Linked DNA regions of Homo sapiens. The protein of the gene in region 3 interacts with the protein of the main gene of each other region in a pairwise test. Each region holds a gene or a part of one and is shown on either strand. Other genes may lie near its edges. The genes, in order: PLAGL2, ZNF398, GPATCH2L and DIP2A.

Region 1 (7,234 bases), on a different chromosome or scaffold from region 3:
TTTTATGGAAACAGGTTCTGTCAGCTTCTCTATAGTCTATAGTTGTTAAGATTAAAATGTGAGACCAGAAGAGCAGCTTTGAAAGAGAAGTAGAATTCTTTCACAGTTTTGCTGAGGAAGGACAAGTCTGAAGGAACAGGCCTTCTGCTTATGTAAGACAAACCCAGGAATCTTTCTGGATCAGAGGAGTTTTCAGACAAAGGGCAGAGAGAGACTAGATCCCCAAAAGGGTTCCTAGGTAACACTAGCAGCTTTGGTTATCCAAGAGGCTGCTGGTGACTGTAGGTAGGGACTTCCTGTGCCTTTTGAAAAGTGTAGGAGAGTAGGATCAGGGTGTTGGCTCTTTTCTTTGTGAAGACATAGCCCCATTAAAAGCAGATCAAGGTGAGCACATGGCTGCTGCTTTCCTCCTTTGGTTCTATCAGTACAAGCTCCTTAGCCACCACCAGCCTCTTTCCTAGAAGCCCATTACTCACTCTTTCAGTAGCAGCCTACTAAACTATTGTGTCTTGTTTGTGCTTGTTCAGGAGAACAGATGAGGTGGACGTGTGGGAGGTGGGGACGTAATGTTCTCTTTCTGAGTTTGTGTGGAGTTTCCAGGGCTAGGCTCCTCTCTCACATCAGCCAAATTGATGTGACTTGTTTCCTTCTGGCTGCCATTCCCAACTTTCCAGAGGCTGAGGTGCATGATTTCAAATTGAAGGGGGAGTAGAATTTGACTTTGAAGGTAGGGGTAATTCCCTCCAATCTAAACATGCACACTCGAGCACACTCTCTGCTCAATTCCAAGGTGCATAGTAATTGCTGGTATTACAAACAGGTAATTCCACCCTTGCAAAGGAGGAGGGGACTTAAACAATGAAAGCCAGACGTCACAGGCCTTTGAGGTTTATAGTGAAGCAGGCACATATGCCATAATGACTTGAAGGCTCAAGTGGGACTAGTTTTTAGTGCTACCTACCCCTCCCCAGCATGTGATTCATGCAAAATGCAGCCACCTTAATGCAGATCTTTCTAGACAAATCTACACTCGTGATGGGGACGTGTTTATCATATTACATCGCAGTGTTTCTTCAACAAGAGGAATGGTTCCTGAACAGGACGTAGCTCATGTTAATGATGAGCAAAGCTCTCTGGGGCATGAACCCGCTGATCCCATCATCTTGTTCACGGCCAGTCTGTTGGATGAATGGTCACTGTAAGCAGCAGGTGCTAATGAGCTGAGCAAGCATTCTGTGGCCCACAGCTAGTTTGTGCAGTTGGAGCCCTCCCCAGATTCTCGTGGATAATCCCCAGACACCCCCTTTTCTCTCTTCACATGGAAAAGCCTCATGATCAAATTTTGGCACCATCTCTTCAAAGGGAATCCCCCTGTTGTAGCAGGTTGCATCGTGGTTGGTAATCTGTGGTAAGCTTGGGAGTATGAATGTGGGTCTCTTGTCCCCTTTTGAGAGTCAGTGTGGTAACTCCCATCCTCTTCCTCTGGATTAGTATCTGGAATGGAGTTGTGTCGTTCTTGCACATCTCCCCTTCTATTCAACAAGAGAAAGAATCAGACTTTAAGATTTCGGCTCCCCACTTGGGAATGGCTGCGAACCCAGTTTAAACCAGAACTACCTGGGCCTAGGTTGGTCCCTGAGAATCAACCTGCATTCAGTGACTAGTTTACCTATCTGAAATAAAGTTAGGGTTCCTTTTCTAGATATTAGGTATATAGAGATGAAAGAGAGATGATGCAAGCCCTCAGACAATCAGGCTGGTGGAGAGGAGTAAATTCCAATGCGAGCTCGCTACCGTCTTCTAAAGGAGATGTGCATATGTACTCTGAGGCCCTGTAGGAGGGGCCTCTCAGCACCTAGGGGTGTTGGACAGGCTTTGCTAAAGAGGGATGGTCTGGGCCCTGAGACACAGTGACCCAGAGAAGTGGTGGTGGTCAGGATGGGACCAGTTCTAGTCCTGGTTTAGGGAAAATGCTAAGAATCTGCTGTTGCCTTCCCATATAGACCCTCCTGATGTTGATGCACTGCTAAGAAACACATCTGGTACCAGGACTGACTAGGATGTAAATTTCCTAAGTAGAGGCTTCCCCTTCCTCCTCTCTTGCCTTTTGGGCATTTTATTGCTCCTTAGCACCTCCATGAGGAGGACAATTGTGGAAAGTAGTGGACGAGGAGGTGCCAGGGTAATAAGAAGGAGGAACCGCTATCTCTAGGTTCAATGGAAAGGATATAAAAGTGAGGTCCAGAAGAAAAAGTTTGAAGTTTTGGGGCTTTTGGTTCCTCAGTTTATCTTGTTTCTTATTAGCCTAGATGGTACTAGTAATAGTAGCTACCACTAAGCACTTAATGGATGCCCAGCCTTCTGCTGAATGCTTTATATTCATGATCTCATTTAATCCTCAAAACATTTTTATAATTTAGGAGATTATTATGCCCATTTTATAAATGAGGAAACAGCTCAGGGAAGTAAGTAATTGGCTGAAAGTCACACAGCTTCTAAGTGGAAGGGCTGGGATTGGAACGGGATCTGTCTGCTTCCAGAGCCCATGTTCTCATGGTATTGGGCTCCCTAACACCAGGTGTTCTGATGTTTCAGGTGAAGAGATTGTTTTCTGAAAGCTGCGTTGGAGGCTGTGACAGAGCTGAGAGCCTGTGTGGAGCGGATGGGGAGGCTTTCTCAATAACATGGCCCTTTGCCATTAGCCTTGCCATGACCACATTTTTCACCAGCGTCCCCCCCTGGATTCAAGATGCAAAGCAGGAGGAGGAAGTGGGCTGGAAACTAGTTCCCAGGCCTCGGGGCCGGGAGGCGGAGAGTCAAGTGAAGTGCCAATGTGAAATTTCGGGAACACCTTTCTCAAATGGGGAGAAGCTGAGGCCTCACAGCCTCCCGCAACCAGAGCAGAGACCATATAGCTGCCCTCAGCTGCACTGTGGCAAGGCTTTTGCTTCCAAATACAAGCTGTATAGGTAGGTGACACTCTCATATCTCTTCCTGCCCTGAGGTTCCCAGAGGGAAAAAGCAGAGAGACTCTGCCTAGTGTGGGTTTTTAATCTGTGGCAGAAGAGTGGAGGTTAATTTGTCCTACAAGTATACCCTGAATGCCAAACAGTTGAAGTCACTCACTAAAAAATGATTCAGATTGCTTGATTCAGACACTAGAATCTGATGGGTTGCCTCCCCAAAGTATTGGGATTGCTGGCGTGAGCCACTGCACCTGGCCTTCTTACACCTTCTTAGTGACGATCTGGGTGCCAATGTCAGGCAGCCTTGAGTTTTGTTTGTTTGTTTGTTTGTTTTTTTAAGAAATGGGAGTCTTGCTCTGTCATCCAGGCTAGAGTACAGTGGTGCAATCAGCTCACTGCAGCCTCCAATTCCTGGGCTCAAGTGATTCTCTTGACTCATTCTCCCAGGTAACTAGGATTACAGGCTTGAACCACCGCACCTGGTTGTTTTTAATTTTTTGTAGATATGGGGGTGTGGCTGTGTTCCCCAGGCTGGTTTCAAACTCCTGGGCTCAAGTGATCCTCCTGCCTTGGCTTCCCAAAGCAGTGAGATTACAGGCATGAGCCACCGCACTTAGCCCTGAACATTTTTTTTTAAATATTGCTTTCCTCACCTTTGTCAGGTGATGGTCAGAATTTTAGCTAGAAGTTAGGAATCAGTATTCGAACTTTAGAAGGAAAAGTAGACCTTCTGGCCCAGTCTGTAAATTTTAAAGTAGAGGTTCAGAGTAGGGACATAACTTACCCAAGGTCACACAGCTTCAGAGGTCCTGCAGTGCCTCTTCTACTGAATCAGCCTGCTACTTACTCATTTAACTATGTCTGTCTCCCTGTTGCCCACTGGGGCAGCTGCTTTTCTGAAACTTGTAAGCCCAAGAACCCCTACTTAAAGTGAAATTAAACGTAAAAGCCCTGACATAAGGCAGATAGAGAAGAGCAGCTTTGGTTGCTTTGGTGAGGATGGGGAGGCATGGTCAAAAGCAATTTTGGGCCAGGCGTGGTGGCTCGCACTTGTAATCCCAGCACTTTGGGAGGCTGAGGCGGGCGGATCACTTGAGGCCAGGAGTTTGAGGCAAGCCTGGCCAACATGGTGAAACCCCATCTCTACTAAAAATTTTTTAAAAATTAGCTGGGTGTGGTGGCACATGCCTGTAGTCCCAGCTACTTGGGACTCTGTGGCAGGAGAATCACTTGAACCCAGGAGAAGGAGGTTGCAGTGAACTGAGATTGTGCCACTGTACTCCAGCCTGGGTGACAGAGCAAGACTGTCTCAAAAAAAACAAAAAAGAGCAATTTTGATTTTATCCTTTTCGCATTAGAGGAACCATGAACTTGCCCTTTAGAAATGAGATAGATCAGCCGGGTGCGGTGGCTCACGCCTGTAATCCCAGCACTTTGGGAGGCCAAGGCAGGCGGATCACGAGGTCAGGAGATCGAGACCACGGTGAAACCCCGTCTCTACTAAAAATACAAAAAAAATTAGCTGGGCGCGGTGGCAGGCGCCTGTAGTCCCAGCTACCGGGAGGCTGAGGCAGGAGAATGGTGTGAACCCAGGAGGCAGAGCTTGCAGTGAGCCGAGATCACACCACTGCACTCCAGCCTGGGCGACAGAGCGAGACTCCGTCTCAAAAAAAAAGAAATGAGATAGATTGGCCTGATGCACAGTCATCCAACCATCCATTCATCTATCCAACATTATTGAGCTCTTGCTCTGTACCAGGCACAGTGCTCGGTGCAAGGGGCGGAGTAGTGAGCCAGACAGATGGGGGTGCTGGTCCTCCTTGGGTTTATGGTCTTAATAGTGGGTACAGACAGTAAACAAGTAAATACATGAACAAGATGACCACAAAGCCTCAGTTCCTCATCTGGAAAACAGTTAATAGGAAGGGACTAAAATAGGCAACAGGGTAGCATGGTAGTCAGGATTGCCCTCTTGACAATTCTGTGGTCCTCAGGAGTGCTTAGATTCTCTGTGTGCTCCTATAAGTTAAGGGAACTCCAGTCAAGGCCATACTCTTAGGCTTTCTTTTTTTTCTTTTTTTTTTGAGACAGGGTCTCACTTTTGCCCAAGCTGGAGTATAGTGGCGTGATTATAACTAACTGCAGCCTCAAACTCCTGGGCTCAAGTGATCCTCCTGCCTCAGCCTCCTGAGTAGCTAGGATCACAGGCATGTACCACCACCACACCCGCTAATTTTTGCATGTTTCCTAGAGACAGGATCTCTTCCCTGTGTTGTGCAGGGTGATCTCAAATTCCTGGCCTCAAGCAGTCCCTCCACCTTAGCCTCCCAAAGTATTGGGATTACTGGCATGAGCCACTGCACCCGGCCTTCTTAGACTTTCTTAATGATGATCTGGTTGCCAGTGGGCGGCTGCAGGAAAGGTCCTGGGTCAGGAGGCAGGAGCCCTGACTCATCACATATAATTTACTGTGTGATCTTAGGTGAGTTGCTAGACCTCTTTGGGCCTCAGTTTCCTCACCTGCAAAATGAGGGAAATGAAAAGTGGATCACTCAGCACCTCCCTCTCTACATTACCACGTCAGTTCCATCACAGGAGGTTGACAGTAACCCACATAGGCACGAGCACTCTTGAGCATGCATATGTGGGATGTGGGCAGGGGGTGTGTTTGATACCCTCCAGGTAGAAAGGATCACAGAGTGCTGTACGAGAGAGAGACAGCTGTTGCATACCTGACTGAACATAGGTCTTCCGAAGGCCTGTTTAAATTCAGCCTCTGCTAGGGTGAGGGGGCTGCCTTTTTTTTAGACTCCTTTCCTTGTCTGGAGATCAAGGTTAATGACACAGCTTATGCAGAGCCTGGCAAACAGTGGGTGCTGAGTTGATTCTGAATATGCTCTGGAGCTGTGAATTGCAGTTCCTGGATTCTGAGCCACTTTTCAACCATATAGGATCAGGTAAACCAAGGGACACTGAAGTGCCATACCATTAAAACATTTCTTAAAGTGTTACTGGTTTATATGACAAGCAATTCAAGTGGTACATACTGGCATGCAGTGAAGAATGAATGATCCTCACACTCGAAGTCACTATTCCTCTCCCCAAAGGCAGCTGGTGGGTTGGTTTTTGTGTATCCTTCCTAAGACATTCAAACATGTATATTCTCTTTCTTTTTTATTTTCAAAACAGATTGTATCACATGTACTGTATTGAACTTCCTTTTTTGACTTAGCCCTGTATATCTTGGAAATTTGTTCTAGATAAGGAAGTTTATTTATTTATTTAGAGACGGAGTCTTGCTCTGTCACCCAGGATGGAGTGCAGTGGTGCGATCACAGCTCACTGCAACTTCAAATTCCTGGGCTCAAGTAATCCTGCCTTAGCCTCTTGAGTAGCTAGGACTACAGGTGCATGCTGCCATGCCCATCTAATGGTTAAGATTTTGTAGAGACAAGGTCTCGCTATGTTGTTCAGGTTGGTCTGAAACTCCTGGGCTCAAATGATCCTCCTGCCTCACCCTCCCATAGTGCTGTGATTACAGGCATGCACCACTGTGCCCAGACTGCACGTTTAGGTATATTTTATTTTCTCTTTATTGTATCATTTAAAATTATTTAAATGTAATGTTTAAAAAATGAAATACTTTCACGTAATTCAAAATTCAAAAAGTACCAAAACTTATACGATGAAAATTCTCCATGACACCCATCTATAAGCTGTTCGGTTCTTTTTCGCATAGGCAGCCACTGGTATCAGTTTCTTGTATGTCCTTCCAGAAATATTTTAGCCATATACAAGCAAACATACATATATTTTTCCCCTTTTCACATAGAGTCCTAGTCTACATCCACTATTCTGCCTCCTTGCTTTTTTTCTACTTCCTGTCTCTTAGGAGCATGTTCCCTGTAAGTACACAAAAAGCCTCATTTTTGAAAAGTTGAGTCATTTTATGGACTTATCATAATTTATGTAACCAGTTCCCTATTGATAGATTGGACGTTCAGATTGTTTCTGATTTTTTTTGCTACTACAAGCAATGCTGCAAAGAATGTCGGTACACATTATTTTGCAGATAGGCAAGGATATCTGTAGAATATAACTGGTTTGGTATTGCATTGCAAGCCTTTACCATGGTTTTTATATCTAGTTTCCTGTTAATGGACACCTTTGGTTGTCCAGTCATCCCTTGTGATCTCCCCTCTTTCTGCTTTCTCCCCTATCCCCTGTCTCTACCCCCAGGCACATGGCCACCCACTCAGCCCAGAAAC
Region 2 (5,324 bases), on a different chromosome or scaffold from region 3:
CTCAGGAGGCTAAGGCAGGAGAATCACTTGAACCCAGGTAGTGGAGGCTGCAGTGAGCTGAGGTCACGCCACTGTACTCCATCGTGGGCAACAGAATGTGATCCTGTCATAAAATAAATTTAAAGTGTCATTTCATTTCTCTGATGATTTGCCACAGAGACCACAGATGTCTCGGTTATTATTGCAGCCTTCTGCTGTATTTCTGATCTGAGCTTCGAGTGATCTGTTAGAGCTGGGTAGGAATGCATGAGAGTTGCTAGTGAGACAGTTATTGATGGGTATAACTCTGGAGTCTTTTCTTTCAGATGAAGAGCTTGTCATCAAAGCTGAAGGCCTTGCTAGATCCTCGTTGTGCCCTGAGGTTCCAGTCCCTTTCTCTTCTCCACCAGCAGCAGCAAAGGATGCTTTTTCAGATGTGGCTTTCAAAAGCCAGCAGTCTACATCCATGACACCTTTTGGACGTCCAGCCACTGACCTGCCTGAAGCCTCTGAGGGACAAGTGACTTTTACTCAGTTGGGTAGCTATCCCCTCCCACCTCCAGTTGGCGAGCAGGTGTTCTCATGCCACCACTGTGGCAAGAATCTCAGCCAAGACATGTTGCTGACCCACCAATGTAGCCATGCTACTGAGCACCCCTTACCCTGTGCCCAGTGCCCTAAGCACTTTACTCCACAGGCGGACCTCAGCAGCACCTCCCAGGACCATGCCAGCGAGACACCCCCCACCTGCCCACACTGTGCCAGGACTTTTACTCACCCATCAAGACTTACCTACCATCTTCGGGTCCATAACAGCACTGAGCGTCCTTTCCCCTGTCCTGATTGCCCCAAGCGCTTTGCTGACCAGGCTCGACTCACCAGCCACCGGAGAGCTCATGCAAGCGAAAGGCCCTTCCGCTGTGCCCAGTGCGGCAGGAGCTTCAGCTTGAAAATCAGCCTCCTGCTCCACCAGCGGGGTCATGCACAAGAGCGCCCTTTCTCCTGCCCTCAGTGTGGCATTGACTTCAACGGCCACTCGGCCCTGATCCGCCACCAGATGATCCACACAGGCGAGCGTCCTTACCCCTGCACTGACTGCAGTAAGAGCTTCATGCGCAAGGAGCACCTGCTGAACCACCGGCGGCTGCACACAGGCGAGCGGCCCTTCAGTTGTCCTCACTGTGGCAAGAGCTTCATCCGCAAGCACCACCTAATGAAACACCAGCGCATCCACACCGGGGAGCGGCCCTACCCCTGCTCCTACTGTGGCAGGAGCTTCCGCTACAAACAGACACTCAAGGACCACCTCCGTTCAGGCCACAATGGAGGCTGTGGGGGTGATAGTGACCCATCAGGTCAGCCACCCAACCCACCAGGTCCCCTCATAACTGGGCTTGAAACTTCTGGCCTGGGTGTCAACACTGAAGGTCTAGAGACCAACCAGTGGTATGGGGAAGGGAGTGGAGGGGGAGTTTTGTAAATCCAAATCTCTGTGGCTTCATGCTTGTATATGCTCACAGCAGGGCACAAAATCCAAGAGAAGGTCTGTGAGCCCCATCCAACACCCACAGTAATTATTATCTGGCACATCAATGAATTTGGGGTCCTATACACTTGACTAGAGACATGCTTGTGTTTTGGAATTTCACACCCTTACAAGAATACCACATTTTGAAACCCAGAAAGACCTGGAAAGGAGCCCAGCATGTCCATCTTTTCAAAGATACAACAAAAGCAGAAGTTACAAGAATATTGCGGAGAGGTTGGAAAGCAGGATTTAACCTCTAGTTCTCTTGTTCTCAGAGAACAGCAGGTTGATAGTAGATTATGTCTCTAGGTAGAGACAGATACATGAGAAGAGCCTCCAAAACTGGAAGCCCATCATAAGGCATGAGAATGTTTAACTATAAAGCCTTTTATTAGTTCTTTGATAGCTAAGATGGTTGTTGGAGAAAGTGCTTAAGCCACTGTTTATGTTGCTGCCTCCTCTCTCAAAACCAGCCAAGATCTGTTCACACACCTCTGTGGCTGTCTTTCCCTGAAACATGGTAACTCAAGACTGCCTGCCTAGGTTTCTTAGATTAATTATTCACATAAATTTTGTTTAATATTGGTTGAACAAGAAATCTGACTTTAAAAGATTATTAAGGAGAATATTCCTTAACTATACTGGCTTGATTTGAAACAGGCTCTTATTGCCATTTAAACTGCCAGAAATCTTTGCCAAGGTCCTGGTTAAAAAAATTGGAAACGGTTTTCTTAGCCCCAGCTTTAAAAGCTAGAGATCTCAGAGAAATAGCTGGCTTAACAATGACAGAACAGCTTAAAATTTGTGCCTACACCATGTTCTGAGAGTCGTTCACATCAAATTCTTATCTTTTCCAAGCCAGTAAGTTGGCTTCTCCATTCCTGGTGTCTGATATTCTTGACAATCATCAGCAACAAAGATCACAGCACTTTCCAGAAGCATGGAGCTTCAGAAAGTGCCAGTGAACTCTTGGTCCTCAGTAGTGAGATGATAACAGTGTTATAATGCAGCTTCCTTGAGCCATCAGAGAGAGTGTATGTTCACCCTATCTGGCTGTATCCCATTGGCAGTGGACAGATTGAGGAAATTCCTAGATCACTGAGAGCTAAGCACCATGCATAGACAACAGTTTGTTCTTGCCTGTGTTGCTTTTAGGGACTTTGACTACCACATGTTCTTTTCTTGGGGTGATTTAATCACCTGGGAGCATCTGAGTCTGCTCCTAAGTGGCTTTGCAACTGGGCCTAAGTTCTGTTTCCTTTATGGATCTCAAATTTTCATCTGCACAATGAGGCTGTTGAAAGGAAAAAAAGTGAGCCTCTAGGAATTATTCAAAAAAAGTCTGTGATACATTCCTTTTCCTGCCAAAGTTCTGTCTCTGTCTTTGGCTTCTGTCCAGGCAAAGCTAAATAAGACAGCAAAGTCAAAGCAGATAAATTCTTGTTGAAACTTGACTAAAATTTATTTGATTTGTTGTTTTACTCCCACTTGGAATCCTGAGGTAGAAGACAGAATGCAGAAGTCTTACATCTTGGGCAGGAAACTGGTTTATTCCTATACTCTTGTTTCCTCTGCTTCTTCCTGAGGTCTAGAACAAGGTCTGGAAATGTTTAGACAGGATATTTTCTTGATGAAGTGATAAGGAAAGGACCCATTTTTTTGCTCATCACCTAGCCCATCCTTCACTCTCTCTAGTTATGCATAACAACACTAGAAGAAGGTGTTAGCCCAGCTAACTTTGCTTCTGGGAAGGCTATGTCTGAACATGTTGCTCTGTAGGATAATCACACTTAGAAAACATCTGCTCCATGACATTCACAATACCAGGGACCATGGGAGACACAAGAAATGTGTGTCTGCTGTCATAACTTACAGTGAAAAAGCCCAATAATACAGAACAAGACATGATGGGCAATACCCTAGCATATTGGGATTAAGAGCTTTCTAGCCAGAATCTGGACCTATACCATGGGAAAATTTAGGGGTGCTGGGAATCCCAAAGCCAAGGTTCTGGCTTCATTGGCAACCCACTAGGAACTTGAATGTGAGATTCAGCTCTAGTTTGCACCTTGATTTCCCCAGTGAAAAGGGAGAAGAGCCAAAGTATTGTCTAGGTGCTGAGTTCCCTTTTCTGAGTGGATTTCAAGCATTTGCCAGGGTATGCTGGAGGAGGGACTCCTAAAGTAGGTGAGATGTGGGACTAGGTAACACTTTAAATACTTTTTTACTCAAAGATTTGCCAAGAACACAGCTTATTAGTGAAAGAGACCTGTGGATTGAAATGGCTGCAGATAGATCCCGCAGTCCCTTCTGAAAGGAACTGTGTAGCCAGCAGGGACCTAAACTTTGGCAAAAAGTGAACACAATTCAAATACGAATGAAGGAAGAGCCCTCAGATGGAACGAAAGGCGATGTGCAAGGCCATCCCAGAGAGACGGAAGCAGGTGCGATACTAAGCCTCAGCCCAAGAATAAAAGAGAGTTCAACTGTTACTCTTTTCTTTCATCAATCCCCTATCAGTTAGAACTGCAGGCCAGTTCCAAAGAGTGTTTGCTTAAGATTCAAAAGTGGGTAAGTAAAATGGATCAGTGGGAAGGATAAGGTGTCCAACAGAAAGTGTGGAGGAGAAACTCTTGGCCTATCAAGTGCTCCTGAGAGAAACCATGCAATTTAACACTTCAGTTAAAGAAATACATGAGAACTGCTTGTCATGACCAGACAAGATAGGAAAGGGGAAACCCCAGAAACGTGCTCTTCATCTGTCAGCCTTTTGGACCAAGAAGCTGTCACTATCACACATAAGCACCATTCCCTTAGAGTGGATCCAGGTGTTGACTATAACCAGATTTACTCTTTGCTTACTAGGTTTTCCATTGTCACCATTGGATGAACCTCTGGTTTAGCCACAGTTGTGAAAATAAATGGAAGTTGGTTGATTGTCTAGAAAGTGCAAGAAGATGGCCCTGCTCCTTTTCTGCTGAACATTTAGTATTGGAAACTCCTACTTCCCTTTTCATTAATAATGTGTGCAAGTTTCCTATTAGCGGGGAAGGTGTGGGGCTCTGCTGGGCTTCTCTTGAGCATATCTGAGAAGTGATGTTCATGTCTATCTCAACCAGGACCAGACCCTGTGACTTACTCGGTAATAACAGTCCACACAAGCCTCGTTGATATTAAAAAAAAAAAAAAAAAAGGACCTCATTCCAAATGGAATGGGAATCCCTAATTTCTGCTCAGATTTTCTCTGAGGAGGGGCAGGACTCCTGCCCTTCCTCTCATGTCTTAGCTTCTTAAACTACAAAAAGCATCCTCAGTGACTGCCTGAGGGCAGCTCAGTAGCCATGAACAAAAGCATCTTTCTTTCTCAAAAATATTTTCTTACGGACAAGGACCTCTGATGTCACCAAATATGTTTTTTTTTTTCTTTCTTTGTGCCTGATTTTTTTTTTTTTTTTTGAGACGGAGTCTTGCTCTGTTGCCCAGGCTGGAGTGCAGTGGCACGGTCTCGGCTCACTGCACTCCGCCTCCTGGGTTCACGCCATTCTGCCTCAGCCTCCTGAGTAGCTGGGACTACAGGCGCCCGCCACCACGCCCGGCTAATTTTTTGTATTTTTAGTAGAGATGGGGTTTCACCGTGTTAGCCAGGATGGTCCCGATCTCCTGAGTTTGTGATCCACCCTCCTCGGCCTCCCAAAGTGCTGGGATTACAGGCATGAGCCACCGCGCCCGGCAACCTGATTGATATTTCTAACCCTGTTCTCTTTAGTCTTGGTTTTTTGTTTGTTTTTGCTGAAAAATTGTTTTTAGAGAAGTCTCA
Region 3 (4,156 bases):
AGGCACAACTGATTCCTAAGTGAGGGGGATATGTGTTCTGAGATGTTAATGTTAGTGATAGACTGTTTTCAACACCTTGGTAAACATTTCTTTTGACTGTTAGCAAAAGCTGCCTTAACAGTCTTGGCTTTTAGAAATGCCCCTTCATTCATTAGATGTGTATGGAACACATCTTATGCCAAGCACTCTGCTAGGAGCTGGGTATACAGAGAAGAAAGGCATTCCTGCTCTCATGATGTTCATGGTCTTCTGCGGAAGAGACCAGAAAAAAAGTATTACAATGTAGAATGAAATAAGAATGACAGGGTATTTTGGCAGCAAGGAGGAGGGCACTTTAACTCAAACTGGGCAGTGGAAGAAGTAAAAAAAAACATTGAAAGAAATCCTGAAGGATAAGCAGGAGTTAAGAAGAGTGGATGAAGCCCTCCAAGGGTAAAAGCATGGTTTATTCAGAGCACTGCAAGTGTTTTAGTATGGCCCACATGTAAAGCTTACAGAGGAACAAAGAGAGAAAGGCAAGAGCCAGGAAGTGAAGGGTCCTGTGTATACTGGCTTACTTGTTGAGTTGGAGAACTATTGCCGTATTCCTCTGCTAAGCTCAGGGTGCATTCGTGGAAACCCTACTGCAACTGGCCCATTGTGCATACAAAGCTGGAACTGAGATGTGAACAGATTTGCATTGCCTTGATCACCTTCCGTGGGAAATATAGCTAGGCCCACTTATTGGTAGGAGCTACTGACATGTTAAAACTAGGTTAAACTGAATTGGAAGTAATGGTGTATTTGGAATCATGGCTGACTGATTCCATTACATGTTCTAGCATGATACCAGTCTGAGGTTATTCCCCTTGAACCACCGACTTAGTAGAGTTTAATGCACAATGTGATGGTCTTAGTTCCTTGTACTGTTCTTCAGTGTCAAAGTTGTTCAACTACCAGTTAAGTTTTTTGGGCTTTGTTTCTCAGTAGTGACAATAAATTTGTGTTGATCTATTTACACCTTTTGGACTGAACACCTTAGCAATCATTGATATTTTAAGCCTACAGGAAGTGCCCATGGGATAAAACCAATCTGCTGGCTCACACTAAGTTCTGATCCCATGATTTTGGTCTCATTAATACCGTGCTATAAATAAAGTTAGCTAAATCTTTTGAAACTGCATAAAAGTGAAATAATTATGAGTTTTGGGCCAACATTTTTCCTGAACAGCTTCTGACTGACCAGCATTTTAAATTAGGCGATGCAGTCTAGCTTTTGTACATAGAAATAAGAAAGTGACTTATGTTCCATTATTAAAATAGTATAGGGAGGACAGGTAAATTACTAATTTTTCATTGCTCATAGTAGAGAATTAAGGTATATTGACTAGTGAAATAGAGGATTATGGGGATCATATGAAAATATGATTAAAGAGATTATCACTAGAAGAAAAATTCAGACTGCTAATTATGAGAAAAAACATGTATGCACAACCAAACAAATCACAAAAATGAAAGATGTCTAAAACCATAGAATAGGAACAAATGTACCTGTCATATTAATAAAAGTAAACTTATCTGTAGATAAAAGGCAAAAATGTCAGCAAACACTAATTTCATGTTATAAGATTCAGAAAGGTTGAGCAAAAGTAAACCAAGCAAACACAAACAAGAAAATGAGTTGTAGTCTGCATATCAGGCAAGGTTGAACTTAGGGAAAAGGAACCGGAAAAAAAAAAACCAAAAAAAACCACGACATAATGCTAAAGGGTGTGACTCACGAGATAATGTTTCTAGATATCTGTGTACCAAATAATGGAAAACCATTTATGTATTGGAAACCATAGGAGACACAGGAAGAAACAAATACAATGTTAGTTGGATATTTTAATTCAATTCTGTCAATTCATGACAGATCAAGTGGATAAAAAACTAGGACATGGGATGATTTAAATAAGATACAGAAGATCTAGTTGATGCATATTAGACTTTACCCTAAAAGTGGTAACTACACTTCAAAGTATCCATGAAACATTTCCCCATTTGACTGTGTATTAGAGCGTACAGAAAACATAAGTTTCAGAACGGAAAAAAGGAACAACAGATGGCATTTGCTGATAAAAATGCAATAAACTTAGAATTTGAGGATAGGTGGTCAGAAAAAAAAATGCAATAAATTAAAGCCAGAAAACACTGCTCATCTGCAATCCAAAATGTTTTTAAGCTCTTCAACTATTCTTGGGTTGATTAGGAAATGCAAAGTATTAAAAAAACATTTCATATCTAAAATATAAACTTGTTCCTCTGAGATACAAATAAAACAGTGCTCAGAGGAAAATTCATTGCCCTAAAATTTATGTATTAAAAAATAAGATAAATGTCATATAACTCAAAATATTAGGAAAAGGAATCTTTTAAAGGCAGGCTAAAAGAATCAAGAAAAATTAATTAGAAAAATGAGGAAACAAAGCTAATTTTTAAAATATGTAGTAAAATATGTAACATTTTAGCTAACATTACAAGAGAAGACAAACACAAAATAAGAATTACCAAGTATTGAATAGGTAAGAGTCATAAAATATTCTTTGCTCAACTGTATGCAAACAATTTAAAAACTTGGATTAAATGGATAATTTTCCAGGAAGGTATAGTTTGCCAAAAAATGACATCAAAAGAAATCTAATATAACAATTGTCATAGAAGAAATGAAGTAAGTATTTCAATTAGCATGACAGACTAAATACTTTTAAAGACCCAATGAAAACAAAGAAATGCATTTGGAGAATTAACAGAAACTTTTTGTAACACCAATTTTTTATTTTACATTTTAAAGCATGGAATGGAATTTATTGTAAAGACGTGTATTTTATAGAATCCAAGCAAAAGCTCACCAGCCAGAGATAAAGTGAGGCCAGCTCAGGGAATGTGAGCAGTGGCGATTTATTCCCTCTGGTGTTCCATGTTAGCCTGACACAGAGCCCCCTCTTCACATTCTCAGGGGCTCTTGATCCAAAACCTTTTTTAAAAAAAATAATTTTAGACTTAACAGAAAATCTGCAAAAATAGATTTCCTGTGTGCCCTTCTCTCAGCTTCTTCTAATGTTAACTTACATACCAATGGTACAATTATTGAAACTAGGAAATTAACATTGGCACAATCCTATTAACTACATACTTTATTTGAATTGTAGCTGTTTTCCCAGTAATGTTGTTTTTCTGGTTCGGTATTCAATCCAGGATCCATATGTACTTGGGTCTTTCTGGGTTTTCTGTTCCACTGGTCTACTTGTGCATGGTACCACACTGTTTTAATTATAGAGACTTTATAGTATGTTTTAACAACTGGCAAGGCTAGTCCCCCTTATAATTTTTCCTATTGTGCTTCTGGCTATTCATACATGTTTGTTTTTCCATGTGAACTTTAGTATCAACTTGTCTAAATTCATTTTTTAAGGTACATTGGTATTTTATTGATATTATATGATATTAACTGATTTAGAGAGAACTAACATCTTTAAAATGTGGTGTCATCCTATCCAAGAATAGGAGATGTATTTCCATTTATTCAAGTCTATTTTGTGCCTTTTAGCAGTGTTTTAAAATTATCCTTGTGTAGGTTTTGTGCATTTCTTGCTAAGCTTATCCCTAAGTATTTAATTTATTTGCTAGTAAATGAGATTTCCTCTGCCATTATGTCTTCTAACTGGTTATTGCTCTCTATATAAAAGCTACTGATTTTGTATGCTAATATATCTTGCTACCTTACCTAATTTTTTTAAAAAAATAAACAACAGAAATTTATTTCTTATGGTTTCACAGTCTGGGAAGTCCAAGATCAGGGTGCTGGCTGATTCAATGTCTGGTGAGAGCTTGCCTTCAGGTTCATAGATGGCACCTTCTAATTGTGTCCTCACATGGTGAAGGGAACTAGTTAGCTCTCTGGGGTCTCTTTTATAAGGGCATAAATCCCAATCACTAGGGCTCCACCCTCCTAATCTAGTGACCTCCCAAAGGCCCTGTCTTCAATGCCAACACTTTGGGGGTTAGGATTTCCACCTGTTTTCGGGGGACACAAACATTTATACCATAGCAGTCAGTAACAAACTCTTTTTGTTTTGCAGCCAAAGGTCAGTCAGTTTTATCTTCTTAGCTTAGTATAATCTAAGCCCTAAAACCA
Region 4 (3,859 bases), on a different chromosome or scaffold from region 3:
GTCACCCTGGTCTGCAGTGGAGCTGGGTGCCATGTAGATGAGCCCTATCTACCTTGGGCATTGCCAGAGAGGGCTGAGGACTTCTTGTGGGTTCTCCCTCTGGATGTACTCTGCAAAACATGGTGCCAGAGCACACCTCACTGCCTGTGTTTGGGTTTGGCTTGTTTTTTTATCTGTTTCCTTATCAGTGGTAAGCTAAGAGATTGTCCCCAAATGCACAGGCAAAATGTAGATTTCCACAGGTCTCATCCTGAAGTGTTTCTACTTTTAATATGAGTTTCTCACATGGTTGTGACTCCTGATTCCTTCACCTGTAGGGAACTTGTGTTGGGACAGGTACAGCTTTCAGCATCAGATAATGCTCTGATTCTCAGTAAAAGCTTTAGTTGGAATAGACATCCTGTAAAATGGATCTGGCCTGATCTTTAGATTGTAAATGGCCTTAAATAGCTGTGTGACATTGGTGGGCTTCACTCTTCTTTGTGCCACCCTTTCCCAAGCATTCATTGGCCCCTGTGACCTGTGCCTGTATCCATGTGACCCAGTCTGTCTTCTCTCTGCAGTGCCGTATTCACCTGGACCAACCTGCTGGTGGTGGTGGTGGAGCTGGATGGGCTAGAGCAGGATGCCCTGGACCTGGTGGCCCTGGTGACCAACGTGGTGCTGGAGGAGCACTACCTGGTCGTGGGAGTGGTGGTCATCGTGGACCCAGGGGTGATCCCTATCAACTCTCGGGGTGAGAAGCAGCGCATGCACCTGCGGGACGGCTTCCTGGCTGACCAGCTGGACCCCATCTATGTCGCCTACAACATGTGAGCGCAGCACACCGGCCCAGGTGCCGGAGATGAATGAGCCCCAGCAGTCCAAGGTGTGATGTGGGAAGACACCGCAGAGCTCACTCACCGGGACTCGCCCTTCCTGTGCTCTTACAGATCCCTCTCAACAATCCCCGCATCTCCTTTTAGAAAGCACTTCCTGAATTATTTAAAGAAATATTTTGAATCTGCCAAGTACATTTACAAAAACACGGATGCTGGTATTTTAACAGATGGAGAGACAAGGAAAGGAAAGGAAAGGCCTGGCATGGGCATTGTGAGGAATCACAGGCACCGAGGTTGTTCTCTGCTGTACTGCAAGTTTGCACTTTCTTTAGGCTAAAAATATAGTTCCTGATTTTTAAAATTCAGTTATTTATTCCCACTTCAAATGACAAGTTCATATATAGAATTTACGGGAGAAACTTGAGACCATTTACGGGGAGAAACTTGATTCTGGGAAGATAGCAGAGTACAAACCAGCTGCCTCACTTCTGTTTCACAGGGAGGCTGATGGAAAAAGGAAGCAAGCTGGACCCATCCTCCCTGCTCACAGAGGGCACTGTGGTCACACACAGTGCCTCCTCTGCCAGTTCCTTTATTGAAAGAGGTGTGCTGGCTGGCCACGGTGGCTTACACCTGTAATCCCAGCACTTTGGGAGGCCGAGGCGAGCAGATCACGAGGTCAGGAGACCGAGACCATCCTGGCTAACATGGTGAAACCCTGTCTCTACTAAAAATACAAAAAATTAGCCGGGTGTGGTGGTGGGCGCCTGTAGTCCCAGCTACTTGGGAGGCTGAGGCAGGAGAATGGTATGAACCAGGGAGGCGGAGCTTGCAGTGAGCCGAGATCACGCTACTGCACTCCAGCCTGGGTGACAGCACGAGATGCCGTCTTAAAAAAACAAAAAAGAGGTGTGCTGCTTGTCAGCATGTATTGTCACGGACACTCAATAAGTGCCATTTTGGACTGTCAAATTTAGATGCTTTGTTTCAGAAAGATAAGCCAGCATTTAGTTTTAAATCACTTTCCTGGTTTGTAACTTGATGCTGTTTAGTTAAATTGCTAGTTTTCCTAACACTACAATATTAATTCTTCTCGTGGAAGTGTACTGATTTATTATTTTTATTCCAAGTCAGCAGATTTGGAAGCATTGTGGTAAAGTCTAAGGTTTTCATATCCATAGTGCTGTTTGGTGAGTACCGGCAGTACAGTTGAGGGGAGCAGGGAACAGCATTGCCCCGTATTGAAGGTGGAGATGGTTACATTCTTCACTGCTTTTTGCATTTTGAGTTGTGTGCCTATAAAATTTGGCCAAACCATTTTATTATTTTGTTCAAACTTGACTAAGCTGAGTGATCTAAAATTATACAGAACCTAAATCAAAGAAGAGAATGTAAAGTCCTTTAGTTACTTCTAAGAATTTGAAGTCAAGCACGAATCTAAGACATAGATTATTTTTATATAGCTAATGAAGAGTATGTTACGAAATTGTTGGGTTTTTGGGGTATTGAGGGTGGCAAATTTTGTGAATCATGCATGCTTCACAGAAACAACCAGGTTTTTCCAGAATTAGTCTGGATCAGTGCCTAACAAAGCTGTTATTAATTCTCCACACATGAGTCTGGCTAACTGGGCCAGCTCTCATGTTTTACTCCTGTCTGGCTACAAATAGCACTGTGCATAGTAGCCCTGTTTCCCCATGGTGTTGGACTGTGGTAAAGTATGTTGTGACATACTGGAATTCTAATAATCCTGTTGTAAGTATGTACAGAATCTATGTAACTTATTGTTGACATACAGAGGTTTGGGAAGTAGTCTAATGGACATTCCTTACAATAGAATGGCTGGGAAGGGAAAGAAAAAAAAAAAAAAACTACCTAACTCCAATCTTAATGTTGTAGTTTTATAGCAAACAAAAATTGTCAGCTTTTTGTATTGAAAGGTCAGTGGTGGTAAGACAAGGTGTCTTGTAAATTAAGATTTTAAGAAGTGCATTAAAATGTTTTAGAATTACTCTGGGAATTCTGTATATCACACTAAAATTTTTATATCATTATGTTAATAAAAGTTATTGACTTTGTAATTCTGCATTTTGAAATGTGTGAAAAGGGTCTTTAAATTACCCCGAATAGGTTGTATCTTATTTTGCTTTTTTTCTGACTATAAAAGCAGTTATGCTTATAGCATAAAATCTAGAAAGCACATTAAAGTATAAAGAAAATTAAAATTTCTTATAATTCTACCTCTGAGTAAACAGCAGCATTCGTATGTAACATAAACCCTCTCAGGGATTTATTTTTTCTTTTTAAAAATTTTTTACAAAATTAGGATCAAGTGCTTTTTTAAATAATTTGCTTTTGTACTTAATAAATTATAGACTTTAAAATCTATTACATATATTCTTCTACATGTTTCAGTGGCTGTATTTTACAAGTGTGCCATGAGTAAATGTAGTATTTGCTGTATTGCCGTACATCAGCGTTGTTTCAACAGGACTGCAGTGAGCCCAGATGCACGTTTACACTGCCATGATTACAATTACTGCCTTGGGCTCAGTTCTTATAGGTAGAGTGAGTGGGTCAGAGTTCATGCCAGGTGTGAAGCTTTGGGTACCTGCTGCCCTCCAGAAGGGCAGGATGACAGCATGGAAAAGGCCTCTTTGCAGATGCCAAGTAATGTTGGCAATGGACATGTGCTCAAGATTAAAATAACTCTTTAACAATTTGATAGGCAAATAAGTGTTGTGTCTGGTCATGTTGAATATGTCCTCGTGTTCATGGCCATTTTTAGTTCTTATCTGATGTATTTTGTTCAGATTTGGCAGTCCTTATGGTCAAGTTTTTTCTTACTGACATGTAGGAGTCTCTTTCTATTAAGAATTATAACCTCCATATACTTCTTACTTTTTCTTGTGGGTTATTTGTATTTTGGTTCTATCTGTTTTGGTGCAGATGGTTTTTTAGATGTTATATTTATGCAAACTGGTTATTGTGTTTGATTTCAGATTATGAATATAGCTGATTTATTTCAAAGTGGTTCT

What was found.
Region 1: the proteins of GPATCH2L (region 3) and PLAGL2 interact in binary tests that used the Homo sapiens proteins (3 or more experiments, as listed by UniProt).
Region 2: the proteins of GPATCH2L (region 3) and ZNF398 interact in binary tests that used the Homo sapiens proteins (3 or more experiments, as listed by UniProt).
Region 4: the proteins of GPATCH2L (region 3) and DIP2A interact in binary tests that used the Homo sapiens proteins (3 or more experiments, as listed by UniProt).

What each region holds. Positions count from the first base shown.
Region 1 is NC_000020.11:32,197,654-32,204,887, reverse strand, and holds part of PLAGL2 (zinc finger protein PLAGL2), read left to right. Parts: exon of another isoform or gene 1-1,408; intron 1,409-2,595; 5' UTR 2,596-2,709; coding exon 2,710-2,969; intron 2,970-7,205; coding exon 7,206-7,234. UniProt on the Homo sapiens protein: Shows weak transcriptional activatory activity.
Region 2 is NC_000007.14:149,178,343-149,183,666, forward strand, and holds the end of ZNF398 (zinc finger protein 398), read left to right. Parts: intron 1-305; coding exon 306-1,459; 3' UTR 1,460-4,700; downstream 4,701-5,324. UniProt on the Homo sapiens protein: Functions as a transcriptional activator.
Region 3 is NC_000014.9:76,210,694-76,214,849, forward strand, and holds the end of GPATCH2L (G patch domain-containing protein 2-like), read left to right. Parts: 3' UTR 1-3,650; downstream 3,651-4,156.
Region 4 is NC_000021.9:46,566,807-46,570,665, forward strand, and holds the end of DIP2A (disco-interacting protein 2 homolog A), read left to right. Parts: intron 1-563; coding exon 564-816; 3' UTR 817-3,209; downstream 3,210-3,859. UniProt on the Homo sapiens protein: Catalyzes the de novo synthesis of acetyl-CoA in vitro. Promotes acetylation of CTTN, possibly by providing the acetyl donor, ensuring correct dendritic spine morphology and synaptic transmission.